Linked DNA regions of Homo sapiens. The protein of the gene in region 2 purifies or fractionates together with the protein of the main gene of each other region. This does not show direct contact. Each region holds a gene or a part of one and is shown on either strand. Other genes may lie near its edges. The genes, in order: ISY1, WSB2, SUPT6H, HSF2, DIRAS2, CLASRP and NUDCD3.

Region 1 (3,149 bases), on a different chromosome or scaffold from region 2:
CCTTGGAGTTCTTCCATCCCCCAGTGGTACCTCAGGACCCAGGGCTGCAGACACAGGCTGGTGCTGCAAGGGCTCCTGCCCCATTCTCAGCCTTCCTTCCCTCTCCTTGTCTCATGTTGACCGGAGGGTAGGGGTCTGTCCCTGGTCTTCCTGGTAGGTTTTGTACACATATTTTGCTACTGTGTGGATCCATTTATTTTTATTGTGGAGTGTATACAACAGGTTGCGAACTGGCTGCCTGTGTCTTATTTTGACTTGCACTGCCATTTTGAGGGGAGAAGAATCAATTAGTGGCAAACATTTAAAAATGCAATTTTTTGCAGACCAAAGTATAATTTTAAAAAATGCAAATTTTCTAAAAGACACATCTCTTGAAAAATGAGATGATGTGGCCAGGCGCAGTGGCTCACGCCTGTAACCCCAGCACTTTGGGAGGCCGAGGCGGGCGGGTCACGAGGTCAAGAGATGGAGACCATCCTGGCCAACATGGTGAAACCCCATGTCTACTAAAAATACAAAAAAATTAGCTGGGCGTACTGGCATGCACCTGTAGTCCCAGCTGCTTGGGAGGCTGAGGCAGGAGAATCACTTGAACCCGAGAGGTGGAGGTTGAAGTGAGCCAAGATCGTGCCATTGCACTCCAGCCTGGCGACAGAGTGAGACTCTGTCCCAAAAAAAAAAAAAAAAAAAGATGCACGCAACCCACAAGTCAATGACCAGGTCCCTCTGTGTTGGTTGCTGCTCTGGGCTCTCCGTTAGCCCCCCTCCACCTGCTCCACTCGCTCCTGCCTGGGTGGCAGGAATTTGAGTTTGCTATTCCTGTTTTATAACCTGTTCTGCAGAAACCTATTTTTATTAAAGATTTTTATAAGAAAGGGAAACCTCCATGTCTTCAGCTTGTTCCCTGGGCCAACGGCTCTGAGGTGACAGTGGCATTAGGATGTGACCAGTCACTAAGGGGCACTGCCTTCCTGCAGGGGAGTCCCTGAAGCCCCAGCCCCAAGTGTGGCAAAGACAGGACCAGATCCCAGGAGTCTAGGTGGGAGTGAGCCGACCCACCATGGCGTCCGTGGCCACAGCTGTAGACAGGGCTCCTTGCAGTGGGCTGCACCGTGGCCTGCTGAAAGCACACAGTGGACACGAGCTGAGTCCAGAGCTTCCTCTGAACTGGGGCTTAGCTCTCCAGTGGGGAACCATGGTCAGCGGCTGTAGCCCCTGGGCAAGATGGTGCCTGGCTTCCTGCCCTCTGCAGGGTCATGGGAGTGTCTGGGAACTCAGGGTCAGGGCCAGATGGCTGTTCCTGGGGCCTGGGGCTCCAGCTCAGGCTGTTTGGGAATAGGAGGAACTCTTGGCTTGGAGAAGCCCATCACACAGCGGGAGGCCTGGGATGGTTGGTCTGCGGGGAGCAGCTCAGACTGGGGGTGGCAGAGCCGTGTGTGGCTGTGTGTGGCCAAGTCGGGAGAGTGGCCAGTGCTGGGCCCTCTCTAAGGAGCCCGAGGGCCACAAGGACTGTGGAAAAGGTCTGAGTGAGGGAGTCGGGAGCTAGTGGCTAAGGGACTTGCTTGAGGACGCTCCGTGCGGCCACAAGGAGAGGCCCAGGCAGGACCAGGTCAGGAGGAGGCTGGGGCAGAGGCCCTGGCAGGAGGTGGGTGGGCTTGGTGGGGATGGGAGTAGCCAGGGTGTAGGTGAGGATGGGGAAGGGGCCCCCCTGCCTCCTGGCTTCCCTGAGGGCTGGGCTGGCCAATCCCAGCCCTCAGTCAAGCCCGGAGGCAAATGTGTGCAGGGAGGAGAGGTGTCCAGGTTGAAGCTTTGGGAGCCCTTGGAGGCAGCAAGGCAGACTCGCCTCTGGGACCCAGCACCCAGCTTGGGCCTGCAGGTGGGGACTCAGGAGTGAATATCGTGGGGGCTTTGAGCAAGACCCTCTGGGCCCAGCCTCACCTTCCATACTTTGAAGTCAAGGAGTGGACCTGTGCTGTCTCAGTTTGCTCTGGGGTCTGGGCAGTCCTGTGGTTTGGGCAGAGGCCTCAGAGGGCCCTAGGGACAGACTGACCCAGGTCTGAGCCTCTTGGGAGCGTGCGGATGGCCGGCCTCAGACAGGCCTGGTTGTGGGTTTGTCTTCCAAGGGGCACACGCGCACTCTGGTGCTTCCTGGCATTCAGAAGAGAATGGGGAATCCAGACATCAGGCCTTCCTTCTCCCTGGGAAGGATGGCAGGTGCTTGGAGCCAGGCCTGTCTTGAGAGCCAGGGCTCTGGGTCTTCCTCCTCCAGTGCCCTGTTCCACGCCTTCAGTGCACAAAGCACTCCCCTCCTGGGATCTCTTCAGGGATCCCCGGGATGCAAACTGGCCAGGGATTAGAATTCCACATTTGAGCAAACAGACTGAGAGTGGAGAAGCACCCAGCTGGACATCCTCTAGGTGTTCCTGGCAGAGGCCCTTGCTACTTGTCTGTGCCCAAAGGCCCTAGAGGGTCCTAGATGTGGGACAAGGTCTCAGCAGGGCTCCAGTCCCAGGCCTGGAAACAGCTGGGGGTGGGGGAAGCTGGCTGGGTGGGTGTGGTTATCTTTTCCCAGCTTGTGGCTCCGAGGTGACAGAACCAATCTCAGGAGGCTTTGTTTGGTTAATAAAATCTACTGAATGGTTTATTTTAGCTTTGGCTCTGCCTGTGGTTTCCCGAAAAGCTACTTTTTCATAGTCATGTTTCCATCAACTTCCTTCTTCCCTCACACTGCCTGTCCTCCAGCGTCTAAAACACACCACCTCCCTCCTGTTTTGCTTTAAGACTGGTCACAGCATCCCCACCCAGGCCTCCTGGACCTCCTCCCGCTGCATCCCCAACTGGCTGACCCCATCTGCCCTTGGGCAGTTTATAAACAAGGAAGAAATGAAAACCTTTCTCCTCTTGCCCTGCACTTGCTCTGCAGTGCTGCGCATGCACACCCCATTCCCTGAAACACTGGCAGGATCTGGACCCTAGCTGGGGCTCCTCACCCTGCTCACTGTGCAGCACTGAAAGCAGGAACCCGCCTGGATGGACATCAGGCCTGGCCCAGCACCCAGCTGACTAGCAAGCAGAGGGATCCAGGGGGACGGGCAGCGGCACCCAGCTCCTTCTGGCATCTCACTTGCTGCCCACCTGCTCCACCAGAA
Region 2 (3,500 bases):
TTGAGACAGAGTTTCACTCTTGTTGCCCAGGCTGGAGTGCAATGACACCATCTCAGCTCACCGCAACCTCTGCCTTCCGCCTCCCGGGTTCAAGCGATTCTCCTGCCTCAGCCCTCTGAGTAGCTGGGATTACAGGCATGCGCCACCAAGCCCGGCTTATTTTGTATTTTTAGTAGAGATGGGGTTTCTCCATGTTGGTCAGGCTGGTCTCGAACTCCCGACCTCAGGTGATCTGCCCGCCTTGGCCTCACAAAGTGCTGGGATTACAGGCATGAGCCAATTTTTTTTTGAGACAGAGTCTCGCTCTGTCACCCAGGCTGGAGTGCAGTGGCACGATCTCGGCTCACTGTAACCTCCGCCTCCTGGGTTCAAGTGCTTCTCCTGCTTCAGCTTCCCGAGTAGCTGGGACTGCAGGTGCCCGCCACCATGTCTGGCTAATTTTTTTTTTTTTTTTTTTTTTTTGGATTTTTAGTAGAGACATGGTTTCACCATGTTTGCCAGGCTGGTCTTAAACTCCTGTCCTCAAGTGATCTGCCTGCCTTGGCCTCCCAAAGTGCTGGGATTACAGATGTGAGCCACTGCACCTGGCAAAAATATTTTATAAATATACACATATGCATCTCTACCATCTGTTTTATTGAATCCAAGATACCATGGATTGTATTATCATCATGTATAACTGAGAAAAAAATACTACCTATTTAACTATGAAAAGTCATTGATTATAAGATACATCCTGATTTCAGCGAGGTCAAAATGTAAGATATATAAAGATGTGTCTTAAAATATATGAAATACGGGTTTTAAAAATGAATATCTATCTGGTAACAGCCAGGGTCAAAGTCTTCCACATTCCACATTCCTTGTGTGGAATGGACACATCAGGAAGTGACCTTATTCAGGATGGAAGCCAGTTTTTATATTAGTAAGTATCACAGTCATAATGGTCAAAAAATTCATTCTGAAGGCCTTTAACTTATAAGCTTCATCAGCCATGAGAATCTTCCATCAGAGTAGAGAACTGAACTAGGAACTGTGGGTCAGTCAATGAAGAAGCTCCAATCTGGTGCCTACTCTTTCACAAGATGGTGTGCTAGGTCCTGGGAGAAACAAAGACAAAATGATCTGGGTGTTGGAACAAGGTGCTTAGACACTGATGACGAGGGCGGGGGGCAGAGAGAAATTGGTTACATAAGAGAGAATGAAATAAACAAGGTGCGACTTATTTCCGTTTTGATAGTGTGAGATCAGGGTACGCTTCTTAGTTGTGAATCTAGGTGGGATTATTACTTTTTTCTTTCTTTCTTGTTACTTTGAGAAGCTAGGGATTCTCATAAGCAAAAGTGGGTCCAGGTGTGAACGTAAATAAGCCCCTTGCATGTCAAGGAGATTTTGTGGCCAGAGTGTGGCCTGCAGGGAGGGGACAAGGGAAGGAGGTTGGACCGATGGGCTGGGGCAGATGGCATGTGGTGAAAGTCCTGGTCTCAGTTGCCTTTATGATGTAGGCAGGCGGGAGCTTTCTAATGTATTTGAAAGAAATGATGTGATGTGTGGGTATTTCAGCTTTAGCAGCATCTCTAGGGGTAGGAAGACTGATCAGGAGACTGTAGCAAAAGATCTGGGTGAGATGAGATGAAGGTTTAACCCCAGACAGAGGACGTGGAAGCGGGAGAGATGGGGAGATGGAATCCATACTTCTGAGTGTGAGGAAGCAGGGCAAGGGCTGAACGTTTTTAGCCTTGATGATGGGGAGGATGCAGGCGAGTGAGAGGGAGCCTTTGAGTTTCACATATTCCTTCTTTGACAGCAGCAGGTTCTTCTGAAGAAACCTGAAATGCATTGGAAGGCCTTGCTATTTTGGCCCCATAATCAGCACCGTCTAGCATATTCCTGGTCTGGCTGTCTCTCCACTTTCCTCCCCTTCAAGTATTCATAGGAAAATGAGGCCTCCATTCACTGGGTTCATGGGCACAAAGGTTACTGTGAGTCATGGTTAACCAGCAGTGAGGAGTGCCAGGATTGAGTAACCGTGGTGGAATGTGGCCTGTGGCTGCTGTTATTGCCCTGGGTCATTTAAGTGACAACTCCCTCTGGGAATGGATAGTGTGGCTCTTTGCCACAGGGAGACAGTGGCTTTCCTGTGTCTGGGTGGTCAGGGAGCAAGGGGGTGTGTGTTTGAAGCATGTTGTCTCCTGCCCCAGAGGAACCGCTGCTGCTGGCCGAACTCAAGCCCGGGCGCCCCCACCAGTTTGATTGGAAGTCCAGCTGTGAAACCTGGAGCGTCGCCTTCTCCCCAGATGGCTCCTGGTTTGCTTGGTCTCAAGGACACTGCATCGTCAAACTGATCCCCTGGCCGTTGGAGGAGCAGTTGTAAGTATTCTCGTACTGGGGCCCCATCCGGCGCATTTCCAAACACTCCTTGTTCTTTTGCCATCTCTGTGCCCAAGAACCAGAGAGAGGGAAGGTGGCTCATGGTTCAGGAATTGATCATGGGGGTTTCCAGAGCCCCAAGTTCTGTATATGTGAAAGTCAATTCTGTCAAGATTATGTTAGCCCCAAGTTGGCTTTTTTTCCCATAGCTTTATTGAGATGTAATTTATATACCACACAGTTTGTCCATTTAAGTATACAATACAGTGGCTTTTAGTCTATCCACAGAGTTGTGCATCCATCACCATCATCAGTCTTACTTTATTTATTTATTTTTTGAGACAGTCTCCCTCTGTCTCCTAGGCTGGAGTGCAATGGCGCAATCTTGGCTCACTACAACCTCTGCCTCCTGGGTTCAAGCGATTCTCCTGCCTCAGCCTCCTGAGTAGCTGGGATTACAGGCACACACCACCACGCCTGGCTAAGTTTTGTATTATTAGTAGAGACGAGGTTTCGCCATGTTGGCCAGGCTGGTCTCAAACTCCTGACCTCAAGTGATTCACCCACCTCGGCCTCCCGAAGTGCTGGGATTACACATTTCTCCCATGAGCCACTGTGCCTGGCACATAATCAATTTTAGAATATCTTTATTTCCTCAGAAAGAAACCCTGTACCCCTTAATTTAGATCCCCCAACCCCCCTGCACTCTCCAGGCAACCACTAATCTACTTTGTCTCTCTAGATTGGCCTATTCTAGACATTTCCTATTAATGGAGTCATACAACACGTAGCCTTTTTTGACTAGCTCCTTTCATTTTACATAATGTTTTCACAGTTCATCCGTATTCTAGCATATACTAGTATTTCATTTCCTTTTATTGCATCATATGGAGATGCCAAATTTTGTTCGTACATTTATCAGTTGATGGACATTGGGTTGTTTTCATGTTTTGGTTATTACAAATAGTGCTGCTATGAACATTTATAGAAAACCTGTGTTTTCTATGTTTAACTATTTGAGGAGGTGTCAGACTGTTTTCCAGAGTGGCTGCACCATTTTACTTTCCCACCAGCAGTGGATTCAGGTTCCAGATTCTCTACATCCAGCCGTTGTTATTGTCTGTCTTTTT
Region 3 (3,500 bases), on a different chromosome or scaffold from region 2:
TTTATAAAAGGTGCTTTCATATGTTTACATACACTATTCATACTTATTAGCAAAGTCAAAAGCAAAATCTCTTTTCAATAGATTAAACACACAAATACTTCATGAACTTGAGCCAATTTGTGTGAGTACTGGTTGGGAGCATTTGGGTCCAAAAAGGGCCTAGTTTTATCATTTACTCCCCTTGCAGGCAAAAAATCTTGAAAGGCTTCCATGTCCTACAAAATAAATGCAACATGGTTAAATGGAAAGACTGCTGGGCTCAAGAGTAGAAATCAAATCCTGGTTTCATACCCTACGGGCTAAACATAAACTTAAGCAAATTATTGGACATGCCTGAATATCACTTTCTTAACCTGGAAAATGGTAATAGCGCTACCTACCTTACAGGATAGTTGAGAATATTACATGACATAGGGGAAAGAACCTATTGTTTCAAGATGGGTTAACCTGAGTTTGAATTTGAATCCTGAGCCTAATTTTCCTTAGCATTCTGTAATTCTGTACCAACCAACCCCAACTTTATCTTCTACTTCCCTGCTTTCAGACTCATCCAAAGCCTGGAAACGACAGTAGGGATCTTCAAGAACCGTAACATGGAGCTTGATGGGCCTTGAGTAGGACTTAAAAAACAGCACACATCATCACAACAAGATTCCATTGTGGAACCCTAAAGCTGGCTGCTGACACACTCAGCATCACTCCTCACCCCATCCAGTAAAATGGTCTATGGGATATATCCCATGTACCTTTCTCTCACTTAGACTACAAGCTTCTGGAAGATAAAGAACATATCCAATAGAGAGACTAATAAAAATCATGAAAACATAAATGGCAATACAAGAGGCATTACAAGGCACTCTGTGATTCTGCACCAGAAAAGCTATATCCCTTCAGGTGTGCTGCAACACATTAGCAACAAATTAGCTGCTAACAAATTAGCAACTGTTAAGTGTCTGTTAAATAAACTACTTACGTTTTCATATTGCTGCCATCTTCCCAGTTAAAGATGGCAGTGGGAGGGGAGAGAAGAGAAGGGTGGCTAATGGCTACCTGAAGGTGCCTTAAGTTCTGTGGCTCTAATTCTCCTCAAAATTGCCCTTACGGAGCTCAATCAATACTATAACCAATGAACTTGAGATTAACTAAACTCAAGAAAACAAAACTGAAGGTATAGGAGGGAGGGGGAATGTTCAATTTTCGGTTGAGGTTTCAGATGCCATTCTTTCCACAAACCTAACTGAATGCCTACAATGTACATATACTCTGCTAAGAGCTGGGGATTTGAAGAGAATTGTTCATTTTCTTTCTTTTTTTTTTTTGAGATGGAGTTTCGCTCTTGTTGCCCAGGCTGGAGTGCAATGGCGTGATCTCGGCTCACCGCAACCTCCACCTCCTGGGTTCAAGCGATTCTCCTGCCTCAGCCTCCCGAGTAGCTGGGATTACAGGCATGCACCACCATGCTGGCTAATTTTGCATTTTTAGTAGAGAGGGGGTTTCTCCATGTTGGTCAGGCTGGTCTTGAACTCCTGACCTCAGGTGATCTGCCCGCCTCGGCCTCCCAAAGTGCTGGGATTTACAGGCGTGAGCCACCGCGCCTGGCCGGATTGTTCATTTTCAAGGAGTTGAATGTCTCCTAGAGATAGAAATATGAAAATAAGGACCATAAAATCGTTTTATATATTACAATAGACACACAGAACAGGCACAGGAAGAGAACTGGACAATAAACTCACAACACACACACAAAACCCAATCAAAATAATATGGGTCTCTCTTGGGTATTTTAAGCAATTTTTTAAAAAGTACCCTGAGGAATAATGCTTATTACACACCTACCAAGTGCCAGACACTAACAAATACCCTACTATTTTATGTCCCTATCAAGGAGAACAAGTATTCTATTAATCCCTACACTGTCCTATGAGTTACAGCACACTTCTCTCTCAACAGAGGAGGAAACAGACTCAGAGAGATGTAGTCATTTGTTCAAGGTGACAAAACTATCATCTGTAAGTGCTGAGGTCTGTCTGACTCTTCATGGTTGACAGTACCACATCTATCAATAGTTTTCAGGGCGTGGTCCAGGGGCCAGTCCCTCTGTTCTCTCAGGAGCATAGAGTGGAGTTTTCCAGAGGTTATAGGACATGTGGTTATCACAACAGACTGAATGCAAAAACATATGAGAACACAGCTGTATTCTGTTAGAGCAGACATTAAAACATTGTACTAAAAAACAAAGAATGTCATTCTTACTTAATTTACTTATTTTGAGACAGAGTCTTACTCTCTCACCCAGGATGAAGTGCAATGGCACGATCCTGGCTCGCTGCAACCTCCGCCTCCTGGGTTCAAGCGATTCTCTTGCCTCAGCCTCCCGAGTAGGTGGGACTACAGGCGCTCGCCACCACGTCTAGCTAATTTTTGTTTTTTTTAGTAGAGATGGGGTTTGGCCATATTGGCCAGGCTGGTCTCGAACTCCTGACCTCAAGTGATCCACCTGCCTTGGCCTCCCAAAGTGCTGGGACTACAGGCGTGAGCCACCACGCCCGGCTATTCATTTATTTTTTAAGACAAAGTTTCACCATGTTAGCCAGGCTGGTTTCGAACTCCTGAGCTCAAGTGATCCACCTGCCTCGACCTTCCAAAGTTCTGGGATTACAGGAGTGAGCCACCACACCCAGTCCATTCTTACTAAAATGTTTTGTTTTAAAAACTATTATTATTCGGCCGAGTGCTGTGGCTCATGCCTGTAACCCCAGGCCGAGGCAGGCCGATCACCTGAGGTCAGCAGTTTGAGACCAGCCTGGCCAACATGGTGAAACTCTGCCTCCACTAAAAATGAAAAATTAGCTGGGTATGGTGGCAGGCGCCTGTAGTCCCAGCTATTCAGGAGGCTGAAGCAGGAGAATTGCTTGAACCTGGAAGGCAGAGGTTGCAGTGAGCCAAGATGGTGCTACTGCACCGACAGTGAGACTCCGTCTCAAAACAAACAAACAAACAAAAAAACCCAAAAAACTACTGTTATTCATAAAAAGTATTATTGTTTACTACTTTAAAATAAATCAATAAATATTTTTAAATGTCTCACTGAGTTTTAATTTCGAATCTGGTAAATATCAAAGGATATAACTCACATAAACAAAATGTCTTTGAAGTCCTAAATAAGTTTTAAGAGTATAAAGGGGTCCTGAGTCCAAAAAGTTGAGGAGTGACTGTAAAGACCCTAAAGAGATGCGGTATAGTAAGCCTAGGGGTTAGGGTGATGCTCCCCCATGACCCCAAGATCTCTATCCTTAAGGTCATTTAGCTTGAGCACTGCCAAAAGTGAAAGTCTTAAACTTCTGCCAATTAAATCTAGAGCTCTAATTTTAATTTTGACATTGCTCCCCCTCAGCCCTGAACTGAGCCATTAAAAACAGATTTGAGTACGGCAGCCCCCACACATAGCTTGTTCTAATTAGGCTATCAGACCCACAAGTTCAATCTTTTAAGGCCTCAAC
Region 4 (2,968 bases), on a different chromosome or scaffold from region 2:
TTAATTCACCAAGATCCCACCATCAGAGCCAAGTATTTTAGGATCTAACTAAAACTCTCCTAAGGGAATTTTCCTATTCTTCTGTGCTAGCCCTTACTTTGAATCTTTACATCATAATAAAAGAAATTCTAAGACACTGACAGAATATGGCCAATAGGAAAACCTGCCTTGAAACTCATTAAATAGCCCTATACAATATTAATTGTACTGCTTTCAGCCCTTTGCCCAAAGGTGAAATTCTTCACATGATAAAGTGCCCTGGCCTTGCATTAAGTCTCCATAATTCTCTTGGGCAACTGTTTCAAAGGAAAGAGGTGATTTGACTATTTCTCTTATCTTCTCTCCAGACATCCAGTGATAATATTCTTACACTATTTGGGACAATGAGAGGCATAATTCTCTCACTTTTTTATTAGAAACATAGAAAGCAACCCAGTATAATTTTTAAACAAAGAACTTTAAAATACATTAAATTTAGAGATTATATTTCTCCCTTGTTGCAATATACAATATATTTTCGAGATGAGGCACAAATATCTTGGTATGATTCATATTGAGAATAATGAACCACAGACAGTTTAAAGCTACTGCTTCCTATGAGAAGAAAAAATTGTTTCATGTGAGTGTCACCTCTAAAGAAGACACATAACAGACACTAGTACTCAACATTCATTGTATTTATTTTACTAAACAGTATGGTTCAAAAAAACACAAACCGGAAAACCTTTATTTAAAACTAGTCCAACTAACTGGATGGGGCTCACTCCATCCCATCCCACCCCCGATCTTTCTATATATATGGAGCTGGAACCCTATCAGACAGCGAGCATTCACGTACACTTTGTCTTTCCTGTTGAACATGAATAAACGTCTTTGAACATAAATGAACTTCTCTGAACCAAAAGAAACAAATGAAGTTTTACAAGATACAGGCACTTTATGTTCCCAGTTTTAAAAATAAGCCAAGTGAAAAATATTTAATAAAAATAACTGGAGCAGAGAAAGCTTTAGGAGTTATACCATTAGTTCAAATGACTTACACTCAATGCAAATAGACAGCATCAAACAGGAAAACAAACAAAAATTTAACTGAGGTTAATGGTCGTATTTGTAAAAAAAAGATATCCAATTTACCAAAATTGGAGAAAAATGGCCATTTGAATCCAACTTAAAGATACGCCAATAATGTGCATTACATCTGCGTAACTATGCAGCTGAGTAACACCTGAAAGCTCTGCAAGAGTGTGTGGTTAGTGAGAAAAGCAAAAGGTGCTTTTATTCCACAGTATCTGATTAAACAAAACAAAGCAATTTACAAAAAAAGTACCAAATGATACTTTAAAATAAATAGTTCATCATTTTGATGAATATATACATGTAAAGTCCACTTCCTGGGGATTTAGCTATCTAAAAGTGGCATATCACTATCCAGAGGTGCAGGAGCAAGTTCACATAAATAAAACAGTGTAGCTTCACTAGCTTCAGCTTCAGTCAATGGCTCCAGGCGAACAAGCTTACTTTGGGTTGGTTCTGGGTCTAGGCTGCTATCCAGAAGCTCATCAACTTCTATGGGTTTATCTACAGAGGACAAAACTTCTGATGATGCTGTTGTACTCGCCTGTTCAACAGAAGAAGCAGGGTTCCCATCGAGGAATGCAAGAAGTGGAAAGGCGGTATACTGGATAAGCTGCTTATCTATAAAGATCAGAAAAACACTCTTTTATCACCAGCTTATACTGAGTTCAAGCTGAGGGGAAAAAAATGAAAACAGAGATGTACACATAGGCAATTACTACTCTCATATAGCCAAACAAGAAATGACATGATGCACTATGTCAATAAATTTTAAAATGTGCAAGTCAATAGCTCTTATTCAACAATTAAGAAATGAGGGGTCTTTAGTTTCCTAAAGTTAAATAGGATAAAAAAAAAAAACTTAAAGAATTGTTACCTCACCAATTCAACTTTCTCTATATACTAGAACCTCGACACACTATTCACAGAACTAAAGCCAGCATATTCAATTAAGACTACCCTCGGCTTGCACTTGTTTCTGCATAGGATTAAAAAAACCTACAGAGACTGAATACTATATTTATACCTACCTGGTTTGGATTTAGATTTTCTTCCCTCTTCCGAAACTGGCTGAACTACATTGTTCTTGGTAGTTTCTAATCCTTTATTCTCAGACTAAAAGAAAAAAATATATATATAAGTACTTGTTTCATATTTTATGTTTCTGAAAAAAATGAAAAATTGATACAATATGTAAATACTGGTATATTATCTGAAATATATGAGATGGGGAAACATCAGGGAAAATGGGCTACAGAGAGAGATCTGAGTAGAGATAACAAGACTGGTTAAGGAACTATTGCTGTCACTGAGGGGATAAAACAAAGAACCTGAATTAAGATGTTCTATATTAAGTATGAAATGAAGGGGGATTTCAGCAGCAGAACAGATAGAATTTGTCACGAGTAAAAGATCAGAATGAATCAAAGATGACTGGTTTCAAAATGTTAATTGAGAGATAATTAACTAAGCAATTAAATTCATTTTAAGTAGTTTTGATTTAAAAAATGTATTATACATTTCACTCATAAACAGAATATTTAGCATAAGTGAACATATTTAGAGTAGCTCAGGATGACATAATGACATCCTTAAAACTCTTTATCACTATTTAGAAGCCTCAAAGTTGAGGTGGTGTTTCTTCTTGTCCTTTCTGTAGCTCTGTCAGTTCTTTTCTGTCATTTAAATTGCTTCTTTGAACCACTTTCTTCTCTCCTCACATCTGACTGTGGTAGGGAAATTATATCTTTACCATTGTTAATTTCTTCAGTGCTCCTTTCATGTTCAAACTCTGAGGTGCAGAGGTTCTTAATTTTTCCTGTAAGTCCCAGACATCTGCAAGTCCCAGATCTACATGCTGGCTAAATATATATGGTGTAACCAACTGTAAACT
Region 5 (3,500 bases), on a different chromosome or scaffold from region 2:
TCTTGCATGCACTTTGGAATCCCAAACCCTCCAAGAAGCTAAGGAAACATCAATGCTAACAGAAAATATAAAAGACTGTTAGGAAGTTCATTAACACCAAAAGATGGCAGAAGAGTCTGCTTAGGAGTTTGGTGAAGTTTATTAAATGCTTATGAGATAATTATGATTAATTCAAGGGTGAAGCATTGTGATAAATTTTTCCACAATTTTTTTAAAAAAACTCAATCGTGTCTTAGTTTGTTTTCTGTCACTATAACAGAATACCTCAGATGAAATAATTTTAAAAGCAATCTACTTCTTACAGTTCTGGAGGATGGTAAGTCCAATATGAAGAAGCTGGATCTGGTGAGAGCCTTTTGTTGCCTCATAACATACTGGAGGGCATGGCATGATAAGACAGAGCAAGCATGTCAGCTAGGGTCTCTCTCCTTGTCTTATAAAGCCACTGATGCCATGACAGGCATTGCCCAGCCTCCTCATGACCTCATCTATTCCTAAAAGCCCCACTTCCAAATACCATGAACATACACATTTGAGGATTACATTTCTAACATATGCACTTTTAGGGAACACATTTAAACCATAGAAAATGGACAATGGAATCTAATCTTAAGCTTCTTTCTACATCCTCAGAATGAAGCTCTCTTTTTGCTTAGAAGGGAGTTTCCTCACTCGTTTTGCCTTGTATTATGGTTATGTAGCTCCAGACTAGAGCATAAGCATCTAGCTGGAAGAGAACATATCTTAACAAGTTCTGCATCCCAATGTATCTCAAAGATCTCTTGGTTCACAGCACATACACTCTTTATGAGTTTGCTGAATATGTGGTCAGCTATGTTAAGGTGTCTCCATTATTAAACTGGCAACGAACACATAGGAAGTAAATGCTAAACATAAAATAAAGTATTCATGGCTACAATTATTCATTTACCCAGAGAAATATCCACTGAGCTTCCACTAAACCAGGCTGTGGACAAGCGGCCAGAAAACAACTGTGCAGAGGACAGACTTAAGGAAGGATCTCTATTCTCATGAAACTCAGAATCAAGTAAAGCAGACATCAATCCAAAAGATAACTTCATAAATATTTAATAAATTATATCATAGCAAGTGCTGCAAAAGAGAGGTCTGAAGGAATTTCATGAAATTTGAGATATCAGGAAGAATTTCACTAAGGAGGTGGCATGGAAGCATGAATCTGAAAGATGAACAGGAGTCAGAAAGTTGAAGGGGTATAAAGTTCAATGTGCATTTATGAGATAGGCCTGGGCCAATAACTCCATAGTGATCTTCAACTCACTAACAAAAACCCAGACTGTAGAGAATCACTTGAACCTGGGAGGTGGAGGTGGCAGTGAGCTGAGATCATGCCACCGCACTCCAGCCTGGGTGACAGAGCAAGACTCCATCACAAAAAAAAAAAAAAAAAAAAAATTGTAAACTATTTTCTTCCATGTCAGAACCATTCATTTATTTCACAAGCATTTATAAAATGTCTTCTAGATACTGTGCAAACTCAGTGCTTACCCAACAGCACTCACAGCATTAGAGGGGGGACAAGCATAGGAAAGTATACATTACGCCCCACTTCGCAGATGCTGTGATCTAGTTATCAACAAAGGCAGGATAAGAACCTAGTGGGGAATCTAGCTCTGCCTGGAGCCCTCAGGAAGCATTTCACAGAGGGCTGGAACTTGCCAGATGGTGAAGTGATGAAAGGCGTGTTAGTCAGAAGAAAGAACTTCATAGGAAGGAATAAATGGAGGAAATAGAGCTAATGCTCATGCCATGGTAGACAGCTTGTGTAAACTGGCATCCAGGAGTGAATTTGGGGTAGCAAGTGAGTGGTGGCACTCACCATCAATCAAGATAAAAGGCAGAAGAGAGAAGCAGCTTTAGAGAAATGACAGTAAACAACAAGGAGAAAGGAGCTGTGATTGGGTCAGGTTTATGGGACAAATGGGGGAGATATCTGGTAGGTGATTGGGATTTAGTGTGAAAGTTCAGCAGAGAGGACTCATCTAGTGATAAATATCTGGATACCATTCATACACAAACAGCACTATAATAAACAAAAATTCTCCAGGGAGAGAGCATGTAGAATGAAAGGAGAATACCACATGCCCAATCTGTTATATGCTATTGAGAGAACTTGGCAAGTTACTTAAACTTTCTGCATTTGAGTTGCTTTAGCTAGGAAATGGATATAATAATGCCAAGTTGTTTATGAGACTAATGTGGGGAGTAACACAATGCAATCAAGCACTTGAACAGCTCTCAGCACATAGTTTTTTGGCTACATTCAAGAAGGACCATGCAGATAAGGGGTTCATAAAGGAGCAGTATGATGGACAAGGAGAAAAATTCACAAGAGGGCAACTAGCTATTAAACTCATTCAATAAGATTTCAGAATACAACATTCATATAAAGAACCAACTGTATTTCTATACACTTGCAATGAACAATCTGAAAATGAAATTTAAGAAAATAACTCAATTTATAATAGCATCAAAAAGAGTAAGATACTTAGGAATAAATTTAACAAAAGATGCAAAACATATCTGGAAATTACAAACATGGTTGAAAGAAATTGAATACACGAATAAATGGAAAAGCACCCCATGTCATGTATCAGAGGACTTTTACTGCTAAGATAGCAGTATTTCCAGGAATCACCTACAGATTCAATGCAATTCTTAAAAGCATCCCACTAGCGACTCTGCAGAAACTGACAAACCGATCCCAAAATTTATGTAAAAATTCAAGAGACCCAGAATAGTCAAAACAATGTTGAAAAATTAAAAGTGAAAAAGCTGGCAGACCCATACTTCCTGATTTCAAACTCACGACAAGGATATAATACATCAAGAAATTGTGGTACTAACACAGGATACACAGATACATGAACAGAATAGAATTCAGAGTCCAGAAATAAACCCTCATATTTACAGTCAATTGTTTTTTGACAAGGGTGTCAATAAAATTCAATTCAAAAGGCAGAAGGAATAGTCTTTTCAACAAATGACGCTGAAACTGGTAAAAGAATAAGGGGAGCACCTCTCCCTCACACCATACACAAAACTGACTCAAAATAGATCAAATACCTAAATATAAGAGCTAAAACTATAAAACTCTTAGAAGAAAACATAGGTATAAACCTTGATAACCTTGGAGTAAACAGTGTTTTCTTAGATGTGACACCAAAAGTATGAGCAACAAGATTAAAACTAGGTAAATGTGACTTCATCAAAACTAAAGGACACAATCAAGAAAGAAGTAACCCACAGGATAAGTGAGTATTGTTATAAATCATATATCTGATAAGGGACTAGTTCTGGTATATACAAAGAACTTCTACAATTCAACAACAACAAAACAACTCAATTAGAAATGGGCAAAAGACTTAAAAAGACATTTCTCAAAAGAAGATATATGAATTTATTGACTATATTTAATAGTCAATAAGAAGATATACAAATAGCCAATAATAAGTCAATAA
Region 6 (3,500 bases), on a different chromosome or scaffold from region 2:
CACTGTCTCACTCGAATGTCCCAACCATGGAAGAAACATACTATTCTTTTTCTTTTTTTGAAACAGAGTCTCGCTCTGTCACCCAGGCTGGAGTGCAATGGCGCGATCTCGGCTCACTGCAACCTCTGCCTCCCAAGTTCAAGGGATTCTCCTGCCTCAGCTTCCCGAGTAGCTGGGATTACAGGTGCCCGCCACCACGCTTGGCTAATTTTGGTATTTTTAGTAGAGACAGGGCTTCACCATGTTGGCCAGGCTGGTCGCTAACTCCTGACCTCGTGATCCGCCTGCCTCGGCCTCCCAAAGTGCTGGGATTACAGGCATGAGCCACCACGCCCAGCTGGTACTATTCTTATGCCCATGTTACAGATGAGTAAACTGAGGCTCAAAGCCATGGGGTCCACCTGCCTGACATTAGGAATAAGCAGAACTAGGATTCAAACCCAGATGGGCCTGGCTACAAAATCTGCTTCTTTTTATTTATTTGCTTTTTAAGAGTAATTTTTTGTTTGTCTGTTTTGAGACAAGAGTTTCACTCTTGTTGCCCAGGCTGGAGTGCAATGGCATGATCTCGGCTCACTGCAACCTCCGCCTCCCAGGTTCAAGCGATTCTCCTGCCTCAGCCTCCCGAGTACAGGCATGCACCAAAATGCCTGGCTAATTTTTTGTATTTTTAGTAGAGACGGGATTTCACCATGTTGGCCAGGCTGGTCTCGAACTCCTGACCTCGTGATCCACCCGCCTCGGCCTCCCAAAGTGCTGGGATTACAGGCATGAGCCACCACGCCCAGCAGGTACTATTCTTATGCCCATGTTACAGATGAGTAAACTGAGGCTCAAAGCCATGGGGTCCACCTGCCTGACATTAGGAATAAGCAGAACTAGGATTTGAACCCAGATGGGCCTGACTACAAAATCTGCTTCTTTTTATTTATTTGCTTTTTAAGAGTAATTTTTTGTTTGTTTGTTTTGAGACAAGAGTTTCACTCTTGTTGCCCAGGCTGGAGTGCAATGGCATGATCTCGGCTCACTGCAACCTCCGCCTCCCAGGTTCAAGCGATTCTCCTGCCTCAGCCTCCCGAGTACAGGCATGCACCAACCTGCCTGGCTAATTTTTTGTATTTTTAGTAGAGATGGGATTTCACCACGTTGGCCAGGCTGGTCTTCAACTCCTGACCTCAGGTGATCTGCCTGCCTCAGCCACCCAAAATGCTGGGATTACAGGTGTGAGCCACCACATCTGGCCAAGAATAATTTTTTTATTGTGGTAGAAAACATTTACCATCTTAACATTTTTAAGTGTACAGTACAGTAGTAGTAACTACATCCACCCTGTGGTGCAACAGAGCTTTAGAACTTTTTAAATCTTACAAAACTGAAACAAAACTGAACTTCCCCTTTCCTCCTCCCCCCATCCCTGTCAACCTGCACTGTATTTTCTTTTTCTGAGGGTTTGACTTTTCTTTTAGGTTTTTTTTTCTTTACCAAAAATACAGAAGGTTTCACGAATTTTTGTGTCATCCTTGCACAGTGGCCATGCTAATCCCCGTATCGTTCCAATTTTAGTATATGTGCTGCCGAAGTGAGCTCCCTTCCTCCCTTCCTCTCTCTCTCTGTTTTTTTTTTTTTTTTTTTTGAGATGGAGTCTTGCTCTGTCACCCAGGCTGGAGTACAGTGGTGTGATCACAGTTCACTGCAGCCTGGAACTCCTGGGCTCAAGCAAGGTTTAACTATTTTAGATACTTATCAGCGGATCATACAATACTGTCTTTTTGCGACTGGCTTATTTCACTTAGCATAACATCTTCAGGGCTCATCGATATTGTAGCATAGGACAGGATTTCTTTCTTTTTTAAGATTGAATAATATTGCGTTATGTGTAGAGACCACATTTTCTTTCTCGATGTATCCCTCAATGGACATTTAGCTTGCGTCCACCTCTTGGCTATTGCTAATAATGCTGTAATGAACATAAGTGTATAAGTACCTCTTCAAGATCCAAAATCCACTTTTTTTTTTGGAGACAGAGTTTTGCTCTTGTTGTCCAGGCTGGGCTGCAATGGCGTGATCTAGGCTAACCACAATCTCTGCCTCCCGGGTTCAAGCGATTCTCCTGCCTCAGCCTCCCAGGTAGCTGGAACTGCAGGCATGTGCCACAACGCCCAGCTAATTTTGTATTTTTAGTAGAGATGACGTTTCTCCATGTTGGTCAGGCTGGTCTCAAACTCCTGACCTCAGGTGATCTGCTCACCTCAGCCTCCCAAAGTGTTGGGATTACAGGCGTGAGCTACCGCGCCCGGCCCAAAACCAACTCTTAACCACTGGATTATCCTGTCTCTAGGATCAGATTGTGTCAGAGGAGTTCATGAAGTTACTCATTCATTCATTCATTCATTCAACTGTTAAGCAGACCTTGTGCTAGGGTATGGCAGTAACTGAGATAGCCCTGGCCCTGCCCTCATGGGCTCACAGTCCAGTGTGGGACACAGACTTGTCCCCATACAAGGACAACCTAGAGTGGACAGCGCTGAGATGGGGGCCCACAGGGGGAACACCTGACCCAGACTTGGGGGTCAGTCTGGAGCTTCCTGGAGGAGGCGACGCCTGAGCTGCGACCTGTTTACTTCTTATTTCCGTATCAACAGAGGATTCTGTTTCTTTATCCAAACCACTGATTAAAAAGGAAAGTTGACAAGGACAGAAGCAATGACAGAACCGGAGTCTGCTTGGGACTGAAGACAGGGAGAGAAAGCAGGCACCAACGACAAATCAGGAAGACAGAAACCAACTGCATCTGGACATACTCATTCAGCCTGCCACAATCTACCGCAGCTTCACTGACACTCGCTCCACAGCCTCTGCTCTCGGCCCAAGGCTGAGATGAGAGTCCCCTCCTCAAAGCAGCCATCAGCCACGGCCCAGCCATACTCCACAGCTTGGCAGCCCAGATCGGAATGCAGGTCACGTTCACATACAGGGACAAAGGCCGCTTGTACAGGCCTGCACCACAAAGCACCCATAGACATTGGTTCTTTGAGCTCTTCCCCATTATCCAGTGAGAGGGGTTGGTCGTCACCACTGTCCTGAGGGGGAATACAATGCAGCAAGCTTCCCTGCTAACAGGGAGGGGGCCTGGAGTCTCAGCTCCAGCCTTCCTTCCTCTGCACCATCCCTCCACCTGGATCCAAACTCCAGTTCTATCAGCAACAGTAATGTCAATAACAAGAGCTAATATTTACTGAGCGATAGCGACGCTGGCCAGGCTGCTCTCAGTGGTCCATGTGTCCAACACTCCAACAACATCGAAGGACATGCTCTTGTCTCCACTGTTAGTGGCAAACCATTAATTGGCAACCAACATCTATTCCCTTTGCTACAACAGTAACAGAACTCCAAATATATCTGGTCAGGGCGACCCAAAATAAAGTCTACACCTCTTAGCCTTCCTCACGGCTGTTCATAAGACTACTTCCTGGTCAGCAGGGGAGGAGTGGAAATGTTAC
Region 7 (3,500 bases), on a different chromosome or scaffold from region 2:
TGGCCAGGCATGGTGCCTCACACCTATAATCCCAGCACTTTACGAGGCTGAGGCGAGTGGATCACTTGAGCTCACCAGTTCGACACCAGCCTGGGCAACATGGTAAGACCCTATCTCTACAAAAAATACAAAAATCAGCTGGGCAAGGTGGTGCACGCCTGTAGTCCCAGCTACTTGGGAGGCTGAGGTGGGAGGCTCGCTTGAGCTCAGAAGGCAGAGGCTGCAGTGAGCCAAGATCATGTCACTGCATTCCAGTATGGGCAACAGAGCAAGACCCAGTATCAAAAAAAAAAAAAAAAAAAAAAAAAATCCAAAAATTTGAAAAAAAAAAAAAATGGATTGTTTTGTCTGTGCTGAACATGTACAAACTTCTTGTCATTATTCCCCAAATAATACAGTGTAACAACTATTTACATAGCATTTACATTGTATTAGGGATTGTAAGTAATCTAGACATAATTTAAAGTCTATGGGAGAATGTGCATAGGTTATACACAAATATTATACTGTTTTATATAAGAGACCTAGACATCCATGAATTTTGGTATCCACGAGGGACCAGGAACCAATCCCCTGCAGATACCAAGGGATAAGTGTATTTATTAAGAGAGTTACTGCAAGAAATTGGCTTACATGATTGTGGGGGCTGGCTAGGCCAGTCTGAAATCCACATAGCAGGCCAATGTGGAACTCTCCAGAAACTGAGTGCAGCTGCTGTCCATCGGAGAAATTTCTTCTACTTCAGGGGAGCTCTGCTGCGCTCTTCAGGCTTTCAGCTGATAGATCAGGCCCACTCAGATCACCTAGGACAATCACCCTTACTTAAAGTCAACCAATTATTAACTTGCATCACATCCACAAAATACCTTGACAGCCATGCCAAGATGAGTGTTTGACTGAATAACCAGGACTGTAACTTAGCCAAACTGACAAATGAAACTGACCATCACAATAACCATGTCAGTAGTCTTTAAAAGCATTTTATAAATGTATTTCTCCATTCCCTTACTACAGAAATTCAGCATTCTTCCAAAATTTTGCTAATATAAGTAATGTTGGAATAAATAGAACTGAAGTGAACAATGCTATAGACTGAATGTTTGTGTCCCAAAATTCCTACGGTAAATCTTAATCCCAAGATATTGGGATGAGTACTTTGGGAGGTGATCAGGGCTCTGCCTTCATGACTGGAATTAGTGCCCTCATAAAAGATTTGAGAGAGTTCTCTCACCTCTTCCACCATTTGAGGACACAGCAAGGTAACTACGAATCAGAATGTGGGCCCTCACCAGACACTGAATCTGCCAGTACCTTGACCTTAGACTTCCAGTATCCAGAACTGTGAGCAATAAATTTATGTAGTCTATAAGCCACCCAGGCTATATTATTTTGTTATAGCAGCCTAAGTGGACTATGACAAACAACTTTGTATATTAAATCTTCATTCTTACATCTGATTATTTTACAGAAAGACTACTAGTAAGGAGGCTGCGCATAGAAAGAACTCCAAAAAACCTCATAGGATCCCCTTGAGTCTTTGGCTGAATACAAAACTGCACATGTGTAAAGTGCAACTCCATGAGACAAGTAGGAAACCTGGGTAACTGACATGGACAATCCCTAGAGCTGGGAGACGTTCAAGCCTCAACCAGTCAGAATGGAAAGACCTCACTAACAGCTGGAGCACTCAGAAGCCCCAAAAAGGCATGTCTTAGAAGACTAAGCTAGCTTTAAAATAAAAGTACCCTAGATACAGCTTAACAAAGCTGAAAAACAAGGCCAGACACATTGGTGCACACCTATAATCCCAGCACTTTGGTAAGCAAAGGTGGGAAGATCATTTGGGACCAGGAGTTCGAGATTAGCCTGGGTAACATATTAAGACTCCATCTCTACAATCAATTGATCAATCAATACAAATAAAAAACAAGCTTCAAAAAGATCATTCTGATCAGCAAATAAATTAATTGCCTGCAAGAACAAAACTCAACACTCAACAGAAGAAATCAAAACCCAGAGACTCGACAGCATAACATCCATTAATGTCTAGCATCCAATAAAAAATTATCAGACATTTGAAAGAAAAAGAAAATGTAACCCAAAATCAGGAGAAAACTCAATCCCTAGAAACAAACCAAGAAATCACAGAGATAATGGAATTAGCAGATAAAGACTTTAAACTATTGTAAGTATATTGAAGGATTTAAAGGAAAACCAAGGTAGAAATTGAAGCCATAAAAAACAATCAAGGGGAACCTGCAGGGCTAAAAAATAAACTATCTGAAATTAAGAAGTTACTAGATGAGTTTAACTACAGATTAGACACCAAAGGAGAAAAGACAGTAAAGTTGAAGACAGGTCAACAGAAAATATTCCAAAGGAAGGACAAAGAGAAAACAGACCTCCTAAGTGTGTGTGTGTGTGTGTGTATGTGTGTGTGTGCTCAAAAGTCTCCCAATAGTATAAACACAAGGACTATCATGCATGAGTAAATCTTAATCAAATTGCTCAAACTAATGATAATAACTTCAAGGAACTGATATAACAAGAGAATGGGGATATTTCACACACAGGGGAACAAAGAATGTCTACTCACTTCTCATCAGAGACAGTGCAAGCTAGAAGACAATGGAATGATAGTCTTTAAAATGTTTGAAGAAAAACAAAAACAAAAAAAAAGTGTCAACCTGCAATTCTATATCCAGCAAAAATATCCTCAGAAATGGAAGATGAAATAAAGGCATTTTCAGACAAAAAAGCTGAAAGAATTCACTATCAGCAGATCTGCACTATAAAAAATATTTTAAAAAGATCTGCAAGGAAATATCAGATGTCTGCCTTCCACCCTATACTCCCCACTTCCAATCTCTAAATCCTTATTTCACCCCTTCTCATCCAGAGCTCCATATTCAAGAGCTGCTCCCCTTCTCCATCAGCTTGGTTCTGCCATCAAACAATTGTTTTCTTCGAACTCCATTAGTTAGCCTGGACTTTAAGACTCTGCAATCTTGCCCCTCCTGTCTTTACAAAACTTATTTTCTCTTACTCCATATTTTATAAGCCATTCCAAGTTGTTCACTTTGCTTCATTAACTAGAAAAAAAAACAAAAACTCCCCCACAGCCTAGGCAATACAGCAAGAAAATATTTTTAAAATTTAGCCAGGTATAGTGGCAGACATCTCTACAAAAAATTACAAAATTAACCAGATGTGGTGGTGCATGCCTATGGTCCCAGCTACTCAGGAGGCTGAGGCGAGAGGATTGCTGGAGCCCAAGAGTTCAATTCATATATTGCGCTATGATCACACCACTGCACTCCAGCCTGGCCAACAGAGTAAGATCCGGTCTCTATTAAAAAGTGTGCACGCACACACACAATCTCCCCCAAAACACGTCAGAAAGAGAGTAAAGGAGTGAGAAAAACAGAAGAGAACTCAAGGTGGCAGGGATTTGGGGGCACACAGGTGACCCATCCTATCAAGGAGGGAAGAGAGTGAAT

What was found.
Region 1: the proteins of WSB2 (region 2) and ISY1 purify together in Homo sapiens (affinity purification with mass spectrometry, with the first as the bait; one large-scale study listed by BioGRID). This does not show direct contact.
Region 3: the proteins of WSB2 (region 2) and SUPT6H purify together in Homo sapiens (affinity purification with mass spectrometry; one large-scale study listed by BioGRID and IntAct). This does not show direct contact.
Region 4: the proteins of WSB2 (region 2) and HSF2 purify together in Homo sapiens (affinity purification with a luminescence readout; one large-scale study listed by IntAct). This does not show direct contact.
Region 5: the proteins of WSB2 (region 2) and DIRAS2 purify together in Homo sapiens (affinity purification with western blotting, with the first as the bait; one study listed by BioGRID). This does not show direct contact.
Region 6: the proteins of WSB2 (region 2) and CLASRP purify together in Homo sapiens (affinity purification with mass spectrometry; 2 studies listed by BioGRID and IntAct, with this or other methods). This does not show direct contact.
Region 7: the proteins of WSB2 (region 2) and NUDCD3 purify together in Homo sapiens (affinity purification with a luminescence readout; one large-scale study listed by IntAct). This does not show direct contact.

Annotation. Positions count from the first base shown.
Region 1 is NC_000003.12:129,126,915-129,130,063, reverse strand, and holds the end of ISY1 (pre-mRNA-splicing factor ISY1 homolog), read left to right. Parts: 3' UTR 1-2,649; downstream 2,650-3,149. UniProt on the Homo sapiens protein: Component of the spliceosome C complex required for the selective processing of microRNAs during embryonic stem cell differentiation. Required for the biogenesis of all miRNAs from the pri-miR-17-92 primary transcript except miR-92a.
Region 2 is NC_000012.12:118,051,180-118,054,679, reverse strand, and holds part of WSB2 (WD repeat and SOCS box-containing protein 2), read left to right. Parts: intron 1-2,201; coding exon 2,202-2,370; intron 2,371-3,500. UniProt on the Homo sapiens protein: May be a substrate-recognition component of a SCF-like ECS (Elongin-Cullin-SOCS-box protein) E3 ubiquitin ligase complex which mediates the ubiquitination and subsequent proteasomal degradation of target proteins.
Region 3 is NC_000017.11:28,668,705-28,672,204, reverse strand, and holds part of SUPT6H (transcription elongation factor SPT6), read right to left. Parts: exon of another isoform or gene 974-3,500; intron 1-973.
Region 4 is NC_000006.12:122,430,652-122,433,619, reverse strand, and holds the end of HSF2 (heat shock factor protein 2), read right to left. Parts: intron 2,191-2,968; coding exon 2,106-2,190; intron 1,696-2,105; coding exon 1,400-1,695; 3' UTR 501-1,399; downstream 1-500. UniProt on the Homo sapiens protein: DNA-binding protein that specifically binds heat shock promoter elements (HSE) and activates transcription. In higher eukaryotes, HSF is unable to bind to the HSE unless the cells are heat shocked.
Region 5 is NC_000009.12:90,615,325-90,618,824, forward strand, and holds part of DIRAS2 (GTP-binding protein Di-Ras2), read right to left. Parts: intron 1-3,500.
Region 6 is NC_000019.10:45,045,545-45,049,044, reverse strand, and holds part of CLASRP (CLK4-associating serine/arginine rich protein), read right to left. Parts: intron 1-3,500. UniProt on the Homo sapiens protein: Probably functions as an alternative splicing regulator. May regulate the mRNA splicing of genes such as CLK1. May act by regulating members of the CLK kinase family.
Region 7 is NC_000007.14:44,480,659-44,484,158, forward strand, and holds part of NUDCD3 (nudC domain-containing protein 3), read right to left. Parts: intron 1-3,500.